2 separate regions of the Homo sapiens genome follow, and region 1 is linked to region 2. The links come from fine-mapping of genetic effects on gene expression. A gene starts in region 2. The other region holds a variant in brackets. All regions are shown on one strand. Distances are between the middles of the regions.

The links. PIP is the estimated chance that this variant, and not a neighbour inherited with it, causes the effect. A credible set is the group of variants that fine-mapping cannot tell apart.
Region 1: its variant is the best candidate, but not a certain one, in a credible set for the expression of ADPRH in thyroid (GTEx, PIP 0.76).

The regions. Positions count from the first base shown.
Region 1 is chr3:119,645,710-119,650,101 of GRCh38, reverse strand. It overlaps POPDC2 (popeye domain cAMP effector 2), which reads left to right. Exons shown (of 4, transcript NM_001369919.2): 3 at 1,434-1,983. The coding sequence ends at 1,940. Among named protein-coding and RNA genes, the nearest start is that of POPDC2, 13 kb to the left of the region's middle. The variant G/A (reference allele first, on the strand shown) is at 2,066.
Region 2 is chr3:119,577,168-119,581,559 of GRCh38, reverse strand. It overlaps ADPRH (ADP-ribosylarginine hydrolase), which reads right to left and starts at 2,068. Exons shown (of 5, transcript NM_001125.4): 1 at 1,709-2,068; 2 at 924-1,009. RefSeq lists enhancers at 919-1,138, 2,079-2,178, 1,963-2,464 and a silencer at 1,759-1,898.

The sequences.
Region 1 (4,392 bases), 69 kb before region 2:
ACATCTAAGGTACAGGCCATGGCAGATGTGACAACTACTTGCTGAACTATTAGTAATGGACAGATTGTATTATTTTCAGAATTCTTTCTCATGAGGCAAGAGAGATTAAGTAATTTATCTGACATCATACAACTGATAGAGGTAAAGCTGAAACATGAAACCACTTCTGGCCTCGATAACGTAGTTTAGGTCCTGATTGCAGTGCTAGCAATTAGTGGAGAAAAGTTGAGAGGAGGAAATGAATAAAGGACGTGGGGGAGGGGTATAGCAGAAAGGAAAGAAGAGAAGAGGAGGGTAATGGGAGATCCAGTAGGCAATACAGGAATGAAAAGGATTATATATAATCTCTAATAAAGAATGTTTGGAAAGCTACCCTACTTTAAATTTGACAATTCATATAAAGTGCTTAACACAACGCCTGGCACCTCTTGACAAATATTAGCTGCTAACATCATTATCATCATCATTTCCACTGTCTCCATCCACAAAAATATATCATGAACTCTGCCAGCCCAAAGTATTAGGGTCAATTAGATTATTAAAAATTGTGTGATTCTGCACCCTTTTCCTGCACTGTCCTAAGCATGTTTCCATTTTAACCCCAGCTTTACCACTTATCATTATTTTAACAAGGATTTATCAAACACCTGCTGCATGCTAGGCACACGTTATTGCTTATTTCCCATGCAAGCGTAATTTAGCTTTGCATCATGGGCACATAGTGAGTACTCAGAAATTCCTAGATGAATAAACAAATGGAGAATGGGGTGCCCTTTGATTTTCTACCCTTTAGAGTTTGTCTTCCGCTATGCCCTTTTTCTGATTTCAGTCATCAGATCCTTTTGGTTACTTGAAATGGCCAAGTTACGAGCAATTTCGTAACTTGCTCGTATCCCAACCTGAATCCCAGGCTTGGGATCCTGATGTAGCTTGGCATACCTCATCAGAAGCTTTTTCTCAAACTCAACTTTCCAACTCTTTTTATGTCCCTACCCCAATATCTTACCCTTCCTCATTCTTAAAATGAATAGTTGTCAGCATTTCAACCACTCTTCAGAGCACAAGAAGGCCCCTTCTTTCTCTATCTTAAAATCATAAGACTCAGAACTTTCTGCAGTCATTAGTGGCATTAGCCACGGAACCACAGAATTACAGTTGAGGAAAGTGGATGTGGAAACTGAGGCTTCAGGAGGTGATGGGTGAGTGAGTGAATGGCTGATCCCAGGGCTCCTGACACAGGACCCCCCCATATCAGTGCACACAAGTGAAAGTCATCCACTAGACCTCCTCCAGGCAAGGCCATAGAGGGGTACTCCCACACAGCTTCTTCAGTAAAAGTACAGCTGTTTGCCAAGTGACTGAATGATCTCTGTGCTCAGCATGGACAAATTTTCTAGTTTAAACTTTTATTGTCTGCTTCTGACCCCTCTCAGGTCACTCTGACTGCTGAGACCTCATGTAGCTACATTTCCTGGCCCCGGAAAAGTCTCCATCTTCTTCTGACCAAAGAGCGATACATCTCCTGCCTCTTCTCGGCTCTGCTGGGATATGACATCTCAGAGAAGCTCTACACTCTCAATGACAAGCTCTTTGCTAAGTTTGGGCTGCGCTTTGACATCCGCCTTCCCAGCCTCTACCATGTCCTGGGTCCCACTGCTGCAGATGCTGGACCAGAGTCCGAGAAGGGTGATGAGGAAGTCTGTGAGCCAGCTGTGTCCCCTCCTCAGGCCACACCCACCTCTCTCCAGCAAACACCCCCTTGTTCTACCCCTCCAGCTACCACCAACTTTCCTGCACCTCCTACCCGGGCCAGGTTGTCCAGGCCAGACAGTGGCATACTGGGTGAGGACTCCACCAGTCTGGTGCTGGAGGATTTTGAGGAGGTGTCAGGATCAGAATCGTTTATGGATTATAGGAGTGATGGGGAGTACATGAGGTGAAGGGAGAACTAACATGGGCACAGCCACCGGCTCAGGATCCTATGTAAGTACTCAGAAGGCAGCCGCTGCACATTCCTGTCAATGGCTGGCCTTAACTCAGCTTGTTAGGGCAAAAAAAATCATTC[G/A]TGGAACATTTCCTCTTAGAGGACTCACAGAAAGTGGCATTAACCCAACTTTGAAGATAGCAACTCACTCCGGGTGCATGCAAGGCATGAAGGGATTTTAAAAACTCATTCGTTATTAACTTGATTGCATTTTAGAAAGTGGGCTGGTTGATACGTTGAGCAGGAAGGTAGATTGCTGTTTTTTTGCAAGTTTATTCTAATAGCTGAGGCCACAGCTGGGGCTTAAGGGGCTTTTATTTGTGGCATGCATTTTAAAAGAAAAAGAATGTGGCAGGGTTCTAATTCTGATTGCTTGTCTTTCCTGATACAGAGCCCGTCCTGGAAAGCAGTTGTTATTTAGCCTAGACTGGGCAGGCATCTCTGTTAAAACTGCATATTTTAAAGAGGATTGTGATTATGAGCTAATAGCTCGGGGAGGAAAATGTCCTCATCTTGCTTTCCTCTCACCCAGTGGAGAATGTGTTTGTTGATCACACAGACAGAGGACTAGATACTGCTATGATTAAATGTTACTATGATCAGATAGGTATATGGCAGCCTGGCTTTCCCCAGTCACCCACACCTGTGGGAGGTAGGATGTGCATAAATCCTGGAGGGCCTAACAGTGCGTGCAGGATTTCCCTCACAGAATTTCCCTCCCAGAGAGTCTACAAGAAAGGCTGTGCCCAGTGGTTCTGGGAAATTGCTCTCATGTTTCCCTGGCTGCCCTCATAATACTGTGATGTTTTTCTCTGTAACTCCACCCAACCATGATGTAGGCCTGAATTTCCTGAGGAAAATCCCATTGTTCCCAATTTGGAAGGCGCCTCCCATGGTTCTTCAGAAAGCACCAATAAATTACCTGAGAAACTAGCCCAGTGAGGAAGGCCTCCAGAGTACATGAAATGAATGAGTGAATGTTTGTCTATTTTGAAAAACAGGTTATATAAATGATGAAAGAGGCCATAGAGATGACTGATGAAAGGTTAGAGATTTAGTTTTGTAGATATGGAATTTACAATCTCCTGTGTTACCAGCATCCTTAGAACCATAGTTCAGCTCATTCTGAGGTAATTCCAAGGATCAATCTAACACCCCAGATCACTTTGTTGAGTTCCCCGAAGTGTGCATTGACAACTCTGATCACTCCTTTCCCTCTGTGCAGCTGTTCGCCTTCCTACTCGTTCATCCTGCATCCACGCATGCTCCTTATGTCCTATGGATCCCTCTTGGTCCAACTTGCCCATCCACCTATACACTCTCTCTTCGACTCACAGCAGCTCTCTGTTTTCTCATGTTGTTCTTCCTGGTTTTCTTCTCTTTTCTTGGTTCTATTTTTCTCTTCTTTCTTCTCCAATTTCTTCTCAGTCCTTGATTGCCTCAGTTTGATGTTCTGTTCTTTTTTCCTTTTCTTTCTTGAGACAGGGTCTCACTCTGTCACTCAGGATGGAGTGCAGTGGCATGATGTCGGCTCACTGCAATCTCTACCTCCAAAAGCTCAAGCGATCCTCCCATCCCAGCCTCCCAAGTAACAGGGATTACAGGCACATGTCGCTGTGCCTGGATAATGTTTAATTTTTAAATTTTTTTGTAGAGACAAACTCTCCCCATGTTGCCCAGGTTGTTCTCGAACTCCTGGGCTCAAATAATCCTCCTGCCTTGGTCTCCCGAAGTGTTAGGATTACAGGCATGAGCCACCATGCCTGGCCAGTTTGCTGCTCTTAAGTGTCCATTTTCTATGTCTTCTCAGTTCATTTCTCCCTCTTCACTTGTCTCTTGTTTTCTTCCATTTTATTGTTCATATATTTATCTCTCCTATTACCTCCTTTTTTCTTTTTCCCACCTTTTTTGCCTTGCTGTATCTATTCTTCCTCCTAAACACCCTGTACCCCCATCTTATTAGTTTTTAATCCTAACTCTTCCAAAGATCAGTACTTTTCCCTCTGCCTATAAAGAAAACCATTCAAGTGAAGGTGTAAAATCCCCAGCTTTAGGAATGTTTTCCAAACATCAGGAGGCAGGCAGCATGGTAAATGAGAAAGAGGCCAGGACTGGGAGTCCAAAGTCCTGGCTTCTATGTCTGGCTTTGCTACTAATCAAATATGTGACTTTTTGCAAACCATACCTCACTAAACCTTACTTTCTTCATTTGAGCGTGTTGGACCAGCTGTCCCCAGGAACCCCCTTGGATTGATCTGAGAAGGCAAGGATAAGTTTTTCAAAGGAAGAAAAGAGGAGTAGTCAGTCCGCAGTACAGTAGACACAAGCCCCAGGACATCTGAGTGTCTTTCAGCAAGAACTCTCTGTGATATTTCACTACAATTTCTCTGGCACCTTGGGACTCTCCT
Region 2 (4,392 bases):
CTGGAACCCAAATCTGATTCCAGCCAAGCCAGGATGCTTGGTATCACACCACTCAGCCTCAGTCCAGATCTTCTTACCTTGGGCAACCTCTTGGTGCCTCAGCCTCCACATTTATAAAATGGCACTGATTTTAAAAAGTAACAACCTCCTGGATTTGTTGTTAGGAATAAATAAATTAAATTTCATAAAGTTGGCTGGACGCGGTGGCTCACGCCTGTAATCTCAGCACTTTGGGAGGCCGAGGTGGGTGGCTCATCTGAGGTCAGGAGATCGAGACCAGCCTGGCCAACAGGGTGAAACCCCATCTCTACTAAAAATACAAAAATTAGCCGGGTATGGTGGTGCATGCCTGTAGTCCCAGCTACTCAGGAGGCTGAGGCAGGAGAATCGCTTGAACCCAGGAGGCAGAGGTTGCAGTGAGCCGAGATTGTGCCACTGCACTCCAGCCTGGGCGACAGACCAAGACTCTGTCTCAAAAAAAAAAAAAAAAAAAAAGTTCTTAGAGTGCTTGGCACATAGTAAGCTTGATTTTTGACATATTTGTATTATTCATATACAACCAGGGAAAATGGGTGTTCTGTTTTAGAACTAGAACATTTTCTCCCCACAACCTTTCCTTCGACAGTAATGTTTAAATATTGTTTCTCTTAGAAATGATCAGCTTCTAGAGAATTCGAATCTCTATTAATAATATACCCACCATGAATGAAATCCCTGGTAAAGCGCTGGCTTCCCTGTTGGTGCATTTCCTAAGAACCCCCCTCTTTCAGCCAATTCCTCAGGGTTCCCTTCTCCCTGTGGCTTTCAGGTCAAAGCCCTCCATCCCATCCAGGCCAATACTTTTATAAGGGTCTGGCAGACTAGCTCATTCTCCCCTCAGGTGAAACTTTTCCCTCCCCTCCACTTATCTAAACCCTATTTACCCAAGGTCTAGTTCAAGTCAGGAGGCTTCCAGAAGTGCTTCTGCAGCTGCACTGCTGTTGGCCATGGAATGCAGGCTGGAGAGCCCCTGGAGAAGGAGTAAACGACGAAGATGGATGCGTTCCACTACCCAGTTACTGGTAATGCTGAGTTTCTGAGCTCACAAAGGATATTTGTAAATGTTATTTACATAGTTTATTATTTACAGTGAAGCCTAGGCACTGAGATTCTGGGCTACTAGACCTGACAGACACCCGGGACAGCGGTTTGCCCATCTGTAAACTGGAGGGGGAAGTGGGGAGGTATAGGCTCTCGGAAGTTCCGTCCTGCGCTGCGATTTTCAGACACTAGGCCAAGACACTCTGCTTCTTGGCCTCGGAGGACTAACTTTAACCCCCCATACCCTCCCTCTCAATGTCCTCATTGTCCTTTCCGTAATTCCTTCTGGCTCCACCCTAATGTGTGCTTCTGTGAATTGCAAGCTGGGATGGGGGAAGAAGACCGGCATCTTTTTTCGGTTGTAAATTCCCTTTAACGTTCGCTTTCAGAACGCTGTAATTACTTAACTCCTCTGAACTTTCACGGGTCACATTCTCGTACCCGAACTATACATTCAGAACTAAGATCTGATCAGCTGCTTCCGGGCCATGCCCGGCTTTGGAAAGAAACGGGGCGGTTGACACGCTCCCACGATTTGCAAGACTGGGAATCCTCATGGTCGGCCACACTCGGAGAGCGCCAGGGGCGGGGGAGGGGAGCGCGGGGCCGAGGGCCGGGATCGCGATACCTGCTGTAGCCTGGACTGGAACGCGCGAGCGACGGGCGTGGCGCGGGCTCCCGGGGCCGGGGAAGAGGCCTTGGCTGCTGCGGGTGGACGAGGGCGCGGGTTGGGGCGGAGCCGGGTCACCGGGTTCCGGGACTGTCCCCAGATAAGCAGGGTGGCGGCGAGGGCCCCCGCACCTGCGCTTGGCCGCGCTGAGTGAGCTAATCTTGGAGCCTCCAAGGCGGCTTCCTGGCACCGCCGCGCCCTTCTGCACCCAAGCGAGAGTGGACGGGACCTCCGTCGCCCGCCCCAAATGCTCTGAAGAGCCCGGAGCCTGGTGCCCGGAATGTGGCGGCACCGGAAAGCCGGCTCTCGCCTGGCTGTGGTCAGTGACTCCCGTGTGGCCCCGGCTGACGCCTTCGCCCGTGCTCACGTCCGACTTTGTAGGACTGTAGTGGACCGGGTGTGCCCAGATGCTTGAAGAGCGTACTGAGTGTGCCGCCCTTGCCAGGGTTCTGGGCCCTCACGCATAAAGTGGGATAATAATATCTGCCTCTTAGAATGGTTGTTAAGGATTCAGTTAGTTAATTTTAACTAGTCATTTATTTGGCAGCAGCGTAGAATTCTTGTATCCTGATCGTAAATAAAAGCAAAGAAAAACGAAGAGTATTTTTGTCTAAATACATTAATCATGTCACTTTTAAAGCAAATCAGAATCACCATATGCAAATATTCTATATATTTCTCCAAAGTTTTAAATTTGCTATGCCTATTTTCTTGCTGTAATGACTAGCCTTGGTCTGAGAGCTTTTTAAAAAATTGATATATAATTTATATATAATGAAATGTCCTTACACCATAATCGAGATATGAAATATTTCCATCACTTTAAAACATTCTCTTGTGGCCTTCCCAGTGAATAACCATCTCCATCTCCAACTCTAGCCTAAGTGACTTTTGAGTGTTTACAAAAATCAAGTTCACCAATAAGGGAGGCAGAGATCACCTCCAACCCCCTACACCCTCTAGCTCTTAGTGAGCTAATCAGCTGCATCTAGAAGCCAAATTGACACTAGGCAGATTAACAAGAGAAAAGTATACAAATTTTATTAATTTTACATGTACATGGGGATGTTAAGAGACTGAATCCTGAAGAAAGTGTCCAAAGCAAGATGCTTTTATACTTTTTAGAAAAAGAGTGATAAATTTAAGAAGAAGTGACAGGACAAAGAAAATCCGGCTAGGGTGGTAAAAAATTTCTAGGGGAGCCCCTAGGAGATATATGGGGGGTGGGGTGTAAAACAGGTGGAAGATAATGGTTACTTTGCAAGAATGTTTACTCCAGTCCAAATGCCACCTCCAGTTCCAAATCTCTGGTGATGAGAGCTATTTTCTCGCTCTGGCGTGGAGAACATACCTCTCCTAGAGGAATCTTTATTGCTGGCTGCATGCAGGAAGAGACAGCTCAGCTCCTGTCAGGGAACCAGGCTCATTTGTCTTTCACACAGTATGCCAATCACTGAGGCGCACAAGTTTTGCAGTAGAGAAAGGGTGTATTCACAAGGCAGCCAAGACAGGAGACTGGAGAACAGGCCTCAAATGTGCCTTTCCAAAGATGGAATTTTAGGAGTGCTTATGGGATAGGGGAGGAAGGTGGTCCAAGGTTCAGAGAAAGATGAGGTAAGGAAAAGTGAGGCAATCGGTAATCTGAGCAAGCATAGTCAATCTTCATGGCTGTTCATAGAACACATGTTCACAAAATCGTGACGTTAGCATGATCTGAGAGTGGAGTTTTGGGCCTTCTGATGTCAAAAGGTCACCCATTGGACACTCACGCAGGCCAAGATGAAGGGCTGGTGGCTTGAACTGGACAAGAACTGACTCTAAGTTCCTGAAAAATAACTTAAGCAATATTTTCCATGGTGTCCTATCAGAGAAGTTATCTATAAGGAGGCAAGTGGAATTTAGTTATGTATCGTCTAGCTACATGACTTTTAGCTATGCAGGTTTTAAAATCGACTAGAAGCAAGTGACCAAAAGCAAGCAAGGCAAATTAAGTGTCAGGCCTAATCAGGTCAGCCCTCAGTTTTACCCTTTCTGAAACTATAATTTCTCTAATGTTTTCAACTCAAAGTAATCAATATATTATATGGCATATTTGGGGATGGCACATCCTTCATTCTTTCAACTGTCAAAGATTTTCAGCCTCTGAGGATGCAGTCAAAGCAAGTTCTGTAGTAAGAGACATTTTGAATAATAAGCATCCCGATAAAACTCAACACAGTTTCAGCTTAAGATGTCTGCTGAGGATATTGTTCATATTATGTAGTGATCTTTCTGTGAGAATCCATGGGAAAGGGTGATTTTTTGTTTTCGTTTTTGACTTAAATGTAAAGAATAACTGGGGCTGGGCACAGTGGTTCATACCTGTAATCCCAGTACTTTGGGAGGCCAAGGGGGACAGATTGCTTGAGACCAGGAGTTCGAGACCAGCCTGGGCAACATGGTGAAACCTGTTCTCTACAAAAAATACAAAAATTATCCAGGCATGCGCCTGTGGTCTGAGCTACTCAGGAGGCTGAGGTGGGAGGACTGCTTGAGCCCAGGAAGCAGAGGTTGCAGTGAGCTGAGATTGTGCCACTGCACTCCAGCCTGGACGACAGAGCAAGACCCTGTCTCAAAACACAAACAAACAAACAAAAACAAAC